Linked DNA regions of Homo sapiens. The protein of the gene in region 1 interacts with the protein of each later gene in a biochemical or structural test. Each region holds a gene or a part of one and is shown on either strand. Other genes may lie near its edges. The genes, in order: CD47 and SIRPG.

The links.
Region 2: the proteins of CD47 (region 1) and SIRPG form a complex in vitro, tested with the Homo sapiens proteins (one large-scale study listed by IntAct).

Annotation. Positions count from the first base shown.
Region 1 is NC_000003.12:108,088,109-108,092,580, reverse strand, and holds the start of CD47 (leukocyte surface antigen CD47 isoform 1 precursor), read left to right. Parts: upstream 1-1,549; 5' UTR 1,550-1,672; coding exon 1,673-1,718; intron 1,719-4,472. UniProt on the Homo sapiens protein: Adhesive protein that mediates cell-to-cell interactions. Acts as a receptor for thrombospondin THBS1 and as modulator of integrin signaling through the activation of heterotrimeric G proteins.
Region 2 is NC_000020.11:1,651,248-1,655,062, reverse strand, and holds part of SIRPG (signal-regulatory protein gamma isoform 1 precursor), read left to right. Parts: intron 1-3,815. UniProt on the Homo sapiens protein: Probable immunoglobulin-like cell surface receptor. On binding with CD47, mediates cell-cell adhesion. Engagement on T-cells by CD47 on antigen-presenting cells results in enhanced antigen-specific T-cell proliferation and costimulates T-cell activation.

The DNA.
Region 1 (4,472 bases):
AGATGTCTGCCAGGCAATTGTTTTTATTTTTCAATCATTAAAAAAGCAATCAAATTTCACTAGAGCAATGCCTGCCTCACGCCGCATCAACACATTTATTAAACCCCTTCTGTTTGCCGAGCTCAATGGAAAGTCTTGGAGGAGGGAATACTTAAAATGCTCTCGGATTTAAAAGAATTGATAATGCTGTGGGGAAGAGGTTCACACAAAAAAGCAATTACAGGAAGAAGCTCGATAGTATACAATACACTGGTACAGAGTGTCATAGACAGTGCCACTTTCATACGCTGGATTTTATTTCTGTGGCAATGGGATGCTTGGGAGGAGCCGCACTGTGTAGAGGATTTGGAGAAGTGGGGTATTGTGGTGGGAAATTGCTTTCTTTCCCAGGAGGTAGGAGGAAAACAATCAAGGAGGTGGACAGGATGTGCACTCCATTAGAGCAGCCACCAGAGCCTGACTTTTTGATAAGAGAGTACATCAGTTAGGATAACGGTTAAAAGTATCTTTAAAAGACTTTTGCTTCAGGATGAATGATGTGGCCTGTGTGATTCAGCGATAAATTCAAAAGCCTTGTCCCTATTGTGGCTTGCGGCCACATTTCGAACCCATTTTTCAAGCATGTTAAACCCAAGCGCAGCGCAGAGGGCTGCACATGGGGCAGTCACAAACCAAGCTCAATAACCTTGCTGGTGGGGATGTGTTGGATACGCTGCTAATGCCTGTTTGCGACAATGCTCGCTAGTCCCGGTGGTGGCGGTGTTCACAGGTAACAATGTTTACCACCGTGAATGGAACTTGTTTGATTAACCCTGATCAGAGGATGAAAACACTAAAGAACCAAGTGAGAAAGAGGGAAGAGAACCGCATAGGGAAGAGCAGAGCGAGTAGACGAGCCGAACGCAGAGCCCGCGAGGGGCGAGTGGAAGCTCCCTGCGGGCAGGTACCCGACCACCGCCCTGCCCTGGGCGTGGCGGCCTCGGGCTCAGGGACCGCTTCGGCGCTAGACGGCCGCGTCCGGAGGAAACGGGCGCTGGTGAAAGCCTAGGTGTCCTGGTCCACGCGCGCAGCCGGACGTCGGGTCCAGGGAGAGACGCGGGCTGGGGCGGGACGGGACCCGGCCCCTGAAGCGCGAGGGTGGGAGTGAAAGCAAAGAGGAGAAAAGTAGAGAGAGAGGACAGTGGGGCCCAGCGCCGCGCGAAAGGCAGGAACCGACCCGCGGACAGGAACGGGTGCAATGAGGTCCCCGGCGAGCGTGGGAACACAGGGTTCAGCCTCCTGCGGCGGGCGAGCACGCGGACCCCAGGGGCGGGCGGGTGCGACAGGACGTGACCTGGAAGCGCGGCGCGTGCCACCGCCCTGGAGCAGGCATCCGGCCTCCGTGGAGCGGGCAGGCGGGCCCCGGGTCTGGAGCCTGCGACTGGGGAGGGCGCCGCGTCAACAGCAGCGGTTGCGGGGCGGGGCCGAGTGCGCGTGCGCGGCTCTCGCGGGCGGGGAGCAGGCGGGGGAGCGGGCGGGAAGCAGTGGGAGCGCGCGTGCGCGCGGCCGTGCAGCCTGGGCAGTGGGTCCTGCCTGTGACGCGCGGCGGCGGTCGGTCCTGCCTGTAACGGCGGCGGCGGCTGCTGCTCCGGACACCTGCGGCGGCGGCGGCGACCCCGCGGCGGGCGCGGAGATGTGGCCCCTGGTAGCGGCGCTGTTGCTGGGCTCGGCGTGCTGCGGTGAGTGGCTCCTCGCTCCCAGCCCTGCGGCTGCTGTCGCTTCGCCCCCGCGGGCGTGTGGGCTGCGCCCCAGCCAGCCCGGCGGCGCCCTGAAGAGGGTGGCCGGGGCGCAGAACACTCGGGCCCTGAGCGCCCGAAGTGCAGACGTGGGAGGGCCCCACGGGGAATCGGGCGCCCCCCTTCTTCCTCCCTTCCTTTCCCTGGTCGTCTTCTTCCCCCTGGGTGAGAGCGGGGCTCATCTCCTCCACCCGGTTCTCCATCTCCAAATGCACACACACAGGAAGACTCCAAACCGCGCACCTCGCGCAAAAATTAACTAGCAAGAAAGGGCGCGATCAGAGGCAAGGGGCTGCAGCTGCTAGGGATCCCCTTCTTTCGCACCCCTCTCCCTTCTCAGTGCTTAGACGCATTTGGGGTTGAGGGAGGGAGAGTGGGAGGGCCCGGGCCTCTTGCGATGGAAGTGCGCATTTTGGCGAAGTCGGTGAGAAGGGGTTTCTGCCGTTTGCCTCCCACATGAACATAGGAGCGAAGAGGACGTAAAGGACACAATTAAGTTTCATTTTCAACTCAGCATTCAATCAGAAGAATCTTCCGGCCGTGTAATTTTTGCTGTCGTTTTTAATCCTAAAAATAAGCTTGCTGGAAACTCTTCCTTTCTCGTGACCCTCACGCCCCATCAGCCACTTGCATACATTCTAAATTGTACGTTGAAGTTTTTCCCACTTTATTTGGGGGAACCGTTTTAAAAGTAATCTGGTTTTCGCCTGAAATAGGAAGACAGTAACCTCCAGTCAAAACATGTGCAGCAGAATGGGATTTGGTGTTTTTCGACGCCAAAGAACCTCCACCCCCCCACCCCCACCCCGAGCTTTTGGAATCCATTTCGCTTTTGTAAAACGTGTGCTTCGTCTGTAAAAACTGAGCAAGGAATAGAAACATTCGTAGCTCTACAGTGAGTGCCTGTCACACTTCACATCCATAGAGCCTTTTGTGAACTTTTATAAGATTCAGAATTCAGCTTGAGCACCAGTGACAGCAATTGTTACATTTATTCTAGAATGCTAAATTAATTCGATTTTAAACTGATTATTAGCCTCGGTGTGCCGTTCCTAAAGGCTTGTGACTTTAGGTATTTCCAAGATGCCCTTAAGTCTCTGCTTACCACTTTCCTCCCTCCCCGAGCATCCTGGATGTTGGGACTGTGAATCCAGGTCTCCGTTATCTAAATGGTTGATGTTAGTGTTTCCTGTCATCACGTTTAGTATGCTTGTTGCCTTTACTATCATTATAGCTAAAATAATACTGCTTTCAGAGATGTGTTGTATAATCGCATAATAATTTCAGAACGCCTTCATATTGAACCAGATATGAAGTGATACAGTATCATTTATTCAAACTGCCTAAAAAGTAAAAAGTATAAACCATATACTATTTTTAAAACAGGTAGGTTAGATTTAAATCACGTAGTTTAGAACTGTTGGAATGGTACTTTGAGTGATAGGATTTATGTTAGGCCTTCTTTAGTAATAGTTAATATCATGTAATTAGCACTCGTTTACACACAATTTTAATGTGTTCGAATCCCTAGAGTCATCGAATTCAGAATTTATAGTATTTTATTTTACTTAGTTAATATTAACCTAAAAAAAAAGCAAAATACAGGCATTATGCAGTTGAGTTGTGTTAAGTGTGGACTGTAAAACAGGATAGTATTTGTTATAAAATATGTTTTTGTATGTGTTTAATATATAGCTTCAAAAGGACATGTATGAAGAAAGATGTCTCAGCACATAGGTAGTTATAAACCAAGGGTTTGAGAGACTGACTTTAGAATCTAGAATGAGTAAGAAAGTGATGGATCTGTACATTCATTTGTATTGAAGTTTGATTTTGCTTTCAGTTTCGTTAATTAAGCCCCGGGAATCAGGGACCTTTCCTGGCACCCTCTACAGTGTTAGTGGCCTTTGTGGTAAAAGAAGTTATCTCAGATACTCATTTCATGCAATTACAGGCAAACTGGAAGGCACCTTAATGGTATGCAAGATGTGAAATGAATTACTATGTTGCATTCCACTCTGCCCCCACTCATGTACAATTATACTTTGTTTAAAAGTGCATAGTTTCAGTGGTATTTATTAGCTAGCAAATAAAACTTTAAATAAATAATGATGGTGTTGTGAACTGTCTTTTCAGTGGTTGAATGATTCCTCTTTGTTCAAAATGAGTTGTTTTTTTTTTTAAATCAGGGTACATATGATTAAATAAAATTTTTTTCCATCGTCTAAGTCTAGTAGTAATTTGGCTTGTTTAAATAAAAATGTTTTCTCTTAAAGAATATATTATTTTTAATTACAAGTTGCCATTTTAAGGAAGTAAATGCCTATTTAAAAGTACGTATTTATGGGGCCGCCCCAGCAGTCTAGAGGCAGTGTTTTTTAAAGCATTACACTAAATGCCTACCATTAGGACACTTGCTCATGCTGTCATCTGTGTTTTGGCAGATGTTTTATCTTTGTCACTGAGTTGTTCATGGAGATTTGAAAGGCCAAGTTCTAAAGATGAGAGATAGATGACTTTCCCCCCAAATTGATACATATTCTAAATCCAAAATAATCACGCATATTCGCAAAACTAGATTTGCATTTCATAGTATGAATTCAGCTATAGCTAGTATATAGGCATTGCTTTTAATATAGTAATGTTCTTTTTGTGGCATAATTTTCAATCACTTTCCCTGTCTTAGGTTTCTGCCTA
Region 2 (3,815 bases), on another chromosome or scaffold:
GGGTTCCCTTTTCTCCACATCTTCTCCAATACTAAATTTCCTCTTTTTGATAATAGCCATTCTTAAAGGTGTGAGATGATAGCCCACTGCGGTTTTAATTTGCATTTATCTCATGAATAGTAAGGTTGGATTTTTTTTTATACGCTGACTTGCCATCTTAATGTCTTCTTCTGAGAAATGTCTATTCGGATCTTTGGCCCATATTTTAATAGGGTTGTTTTCTTATGGTTGAGTTGTTTGACTTCCTTATATATTTTGTATACTGACTCCTTATCAGATGTATGGTTTGCAAATGTTTTCTTCCATTCTATAGGTTGTCTCTTCACTCTGTTGATTGTTTCCTTGGCTGGGTAGAAGCTTTTTTAGTTTGTTGTTAATGCCTTTTGTCTATTTTTGCTTTTGTTGCCTGTGCTTTGGGGCTCAAATCCAAAAATGTATTGCCAAGACCAATGTCATGAAACTTTTCTTCTAGTTCTTGTACAGTTTCAGATCTTACATTTAAATCTTTAATCCATTTTGAGTTGATTTTTGTATGAGGCATGAGAAGAAGGCCTAATTTCATTCCCCTACACATGGATATCCAACTTTCCCAGCACCACTTTTTGAAGAGACAGACCTTTCACCATTGTGTTTTCTTCACACTTTTGTCAATAGTCAATTGAGTGTGAATGTGTGAGTTTATTGCTGGGCTCTCTGCTCTGATCCATTGGTCTATATATCTCTTTTTATGCCAGTGCCATGCCATTTTGATTACTTTGACACTGTAGTCAATGTTGAAATTAGGCAGTGTGGTGCTTCCATCTTTGTTCTTTTTTTTTTTTTTTTTAGATGCAGTCTTGCTCTGTCGCCAGTCTGGAGTGCAGTGGTGTGATCTCAGCTCACTGCAATCTCCACCTCCCGGGTTCAAGTGATTCCCCTGCCTCAGCCTCCCAAGTAGCTGGGACTACAGGTGTGCACCACCATGCCTGGCTAATTTTTTGTATTTTCAGTAGAGACAAGGTTTTACCATGTTGGCCAAGACGGTCTCGATTGCCTAACCTCGTGATCTGCTCGCTTCGGCCTCCCAAAGTGCTGGGATTACAGGCATGAGCCACCATGCCCGGCCCCATCTTTGTTCTTTTTGCTCAAGATTGCCTTGATGTAGCATATCACATTTGGAGATTTATGAATGTTATACCATCCTTGCATTCCTGAGATAAATCTCATGTGACCATGCTGAAACACACACAGAATTTTAAAGACTTTCTTTACTGTAAACTTCAACTCATTTTTTCAGTCTATATGAAATGCACATTGAAGAGATGTGTGGTTTTCCCTATTGCCCAGCCACTCTCCCTCCTTCCTACTTCTCTAATCTTACCACTGAAAGTCCTCCAATCTGTTAATAGAAGCAACAGATAAGCAAACTTCTCTCTTGGTAAAATGCATTTTCCCTCAAAGCAGAATTTCTGTGCATTTTTATCCTGAAATTCCCTCTTCCATGAAGGTAGAAATGAGGAAAAAAATGTGGGGATACAGGTGACACAGGTCTGCCTATATTACCTATAACTATAGTTATATTTATATCCATATCCATACCCTTATCCTTATCCTTGTCATCTAATGTCCACTGAAGCCTCCAAGCCTCAGAAATCTACTGAGCAATAACTTTACAATTTTTGAACGTTCACCATGTGGCAGACACTGTTGAAAATGCCTTACCTCTTTTACTTCATGTGATCATTATATACAAGGTAGATATTCTTGTCACCTTTCCTAACAGATAAGAAAACAGAAGCACAAAGTGCTCCAGGCTCACTCATTGGTAACTGGTAGAGCTACGATTTGAACTCAGGCACTCTGACTCTAGAGGTCACAGGTTTCACCATTACTCAAACACTTCCGGTCTTGATTCTATTCCATGAGATTTCTGCAGCTGCTGCTCTTGGGTGTGGAGTGGGCAATGTGGTGTGAAGGGAGATTGTGGTTTTCTTCTCTGGGCTCTTCTACTTTCTGTATGTTTGCAAACTGATTTTTTTTCACTAAGTCCTCTACATGGGAAACTCATTTTCTGTCAAATTCCACAGGAGCAAACCACCTAAAATAGAAGATTTCAGTCTTCGAGGGAAATGTCCCACTGAGCAATTCAAACATTACACACATATCTATTGGATACCTACTATGTGCCAGGATCTGACATAAAAACATGGGGTACTTTGGTAGAATAAAAGAGAAAAAGTAATTGCCCTTTTGTTGCTTACATCCACTGCAGAGAAAGACAGTAATCAATACACATGATAAATAGGTGAATGAAAAAATTAATTTTTGACAATGATAAGTGCAATAAAAATAAAGTATGAGTAGGTGAATGTTATCATCTTGTGAAAGTATTCATATATCCTTTTTATTGTTTTCATCGTAAATAGATGTACAAATTTACCAGATGCTTTTCTGCATCAAAATAGATGATCATGTGTTTTTTCTATTTATTCTATAAATAAATATTTGTAGAATACCATATTGTTTGTCTGTCATTTGTATATTGAAACATACTCATATTCCAGGAATAAATACCACTTGTTCATGGTTTATAATCCTTCTTACATGCTGTTCAATTCAGTTAGCTAGTATTTGGTTGAGGATTGTTGCATCAACAAATCCAGTAGTAATAAGGCCACTGTCAACAGAAAGGTGTGCAGCTGCACCTGACAAATTTTAATTTTGTGTTTCAGTAGAAGTTTAAGTTCCAGTGGGACCCATTTCAGATGAGCAGGGACTGGCCTGTGAGACAACCAGTGGTTAATGCTTGCAACAGGAAATATTCCCCCTAGATCTGGACCACAAGCCAGTAGATTCTAGTAGATAACCAGTCATTTTTTGTTAGAATGAAGTAAAGAACAAGGCAGAGAGGGGCTTTTTTGTTTTGTTTTATTTTTTGTTTTGCGTTAGAAGCCCTGGGGAAGTTTATGACCATCAGGAGTGGTCTAGAAATTCCAAGAGGAATGAAAATCATTGCCAAAGTCTCTAGAGAGAAGAGGTATTTTTGTTTGTTTGAAAGCACTAAAAGGAGTGCCTGTTGATTTTAATTTGCAAGTAAAATTTGTAAATGTAGAATACATTGCCACTGGCACCTCAAAACAACTCAGAGATGCTGGATTATGTGATATTATTATAAGTATCACATGAGTCTTCTTTGAAGAGGTTGCTATAACATCCTGTGCTCTTGAAGAAAGGCAGCTGTCATTATTGATATTGGAATAGGATACACATTTTAGGATAGAGAGTCTTGGCAGCACTCCAAAAGGCAACACATAGCTGTGCATAGCACAACACAAGAAAGGCATCAGGGCAAAAAAAAAACCTTCTCAAATTGTGGAGCCAATCAGTAGCAAATCCGTAAGCCATGAACAGTCAAAGTGCATCTCCTAGGAATTTGCTACCCCGGTTTAGAATAATCCCCTCCTCATTGCCATTAGTGTTGAAAATGGTAGAGTAAGTCCTGCAGGTTGTGTCTTAAAGGATCACTCTAACCTGGTCATGAGAATTTCATCTGGAGAGGCATAGCTGGGTAGGGCATGCCACACAGGAAGCCATATGGGAGGAGCTCCCAGGGAGTAGGCTCAACCAAGCAGATGGGGAAGCAAGAGAGATGAGAGATGAGAAGCCATTGCCTTTAATGGGAGTCAGGGTGGAGGACACCAAGAAAAAGCATGATGGGTTTTACTAGAACGTTTCAGTGTCACTAAGTCACAGAAGAGGAGGACAAGAAGAGGAATTATGGCAGGGACCAGCTTTATCACAGTGGTGTACCTGGTTTGGCAGGGTGCTCACAACTT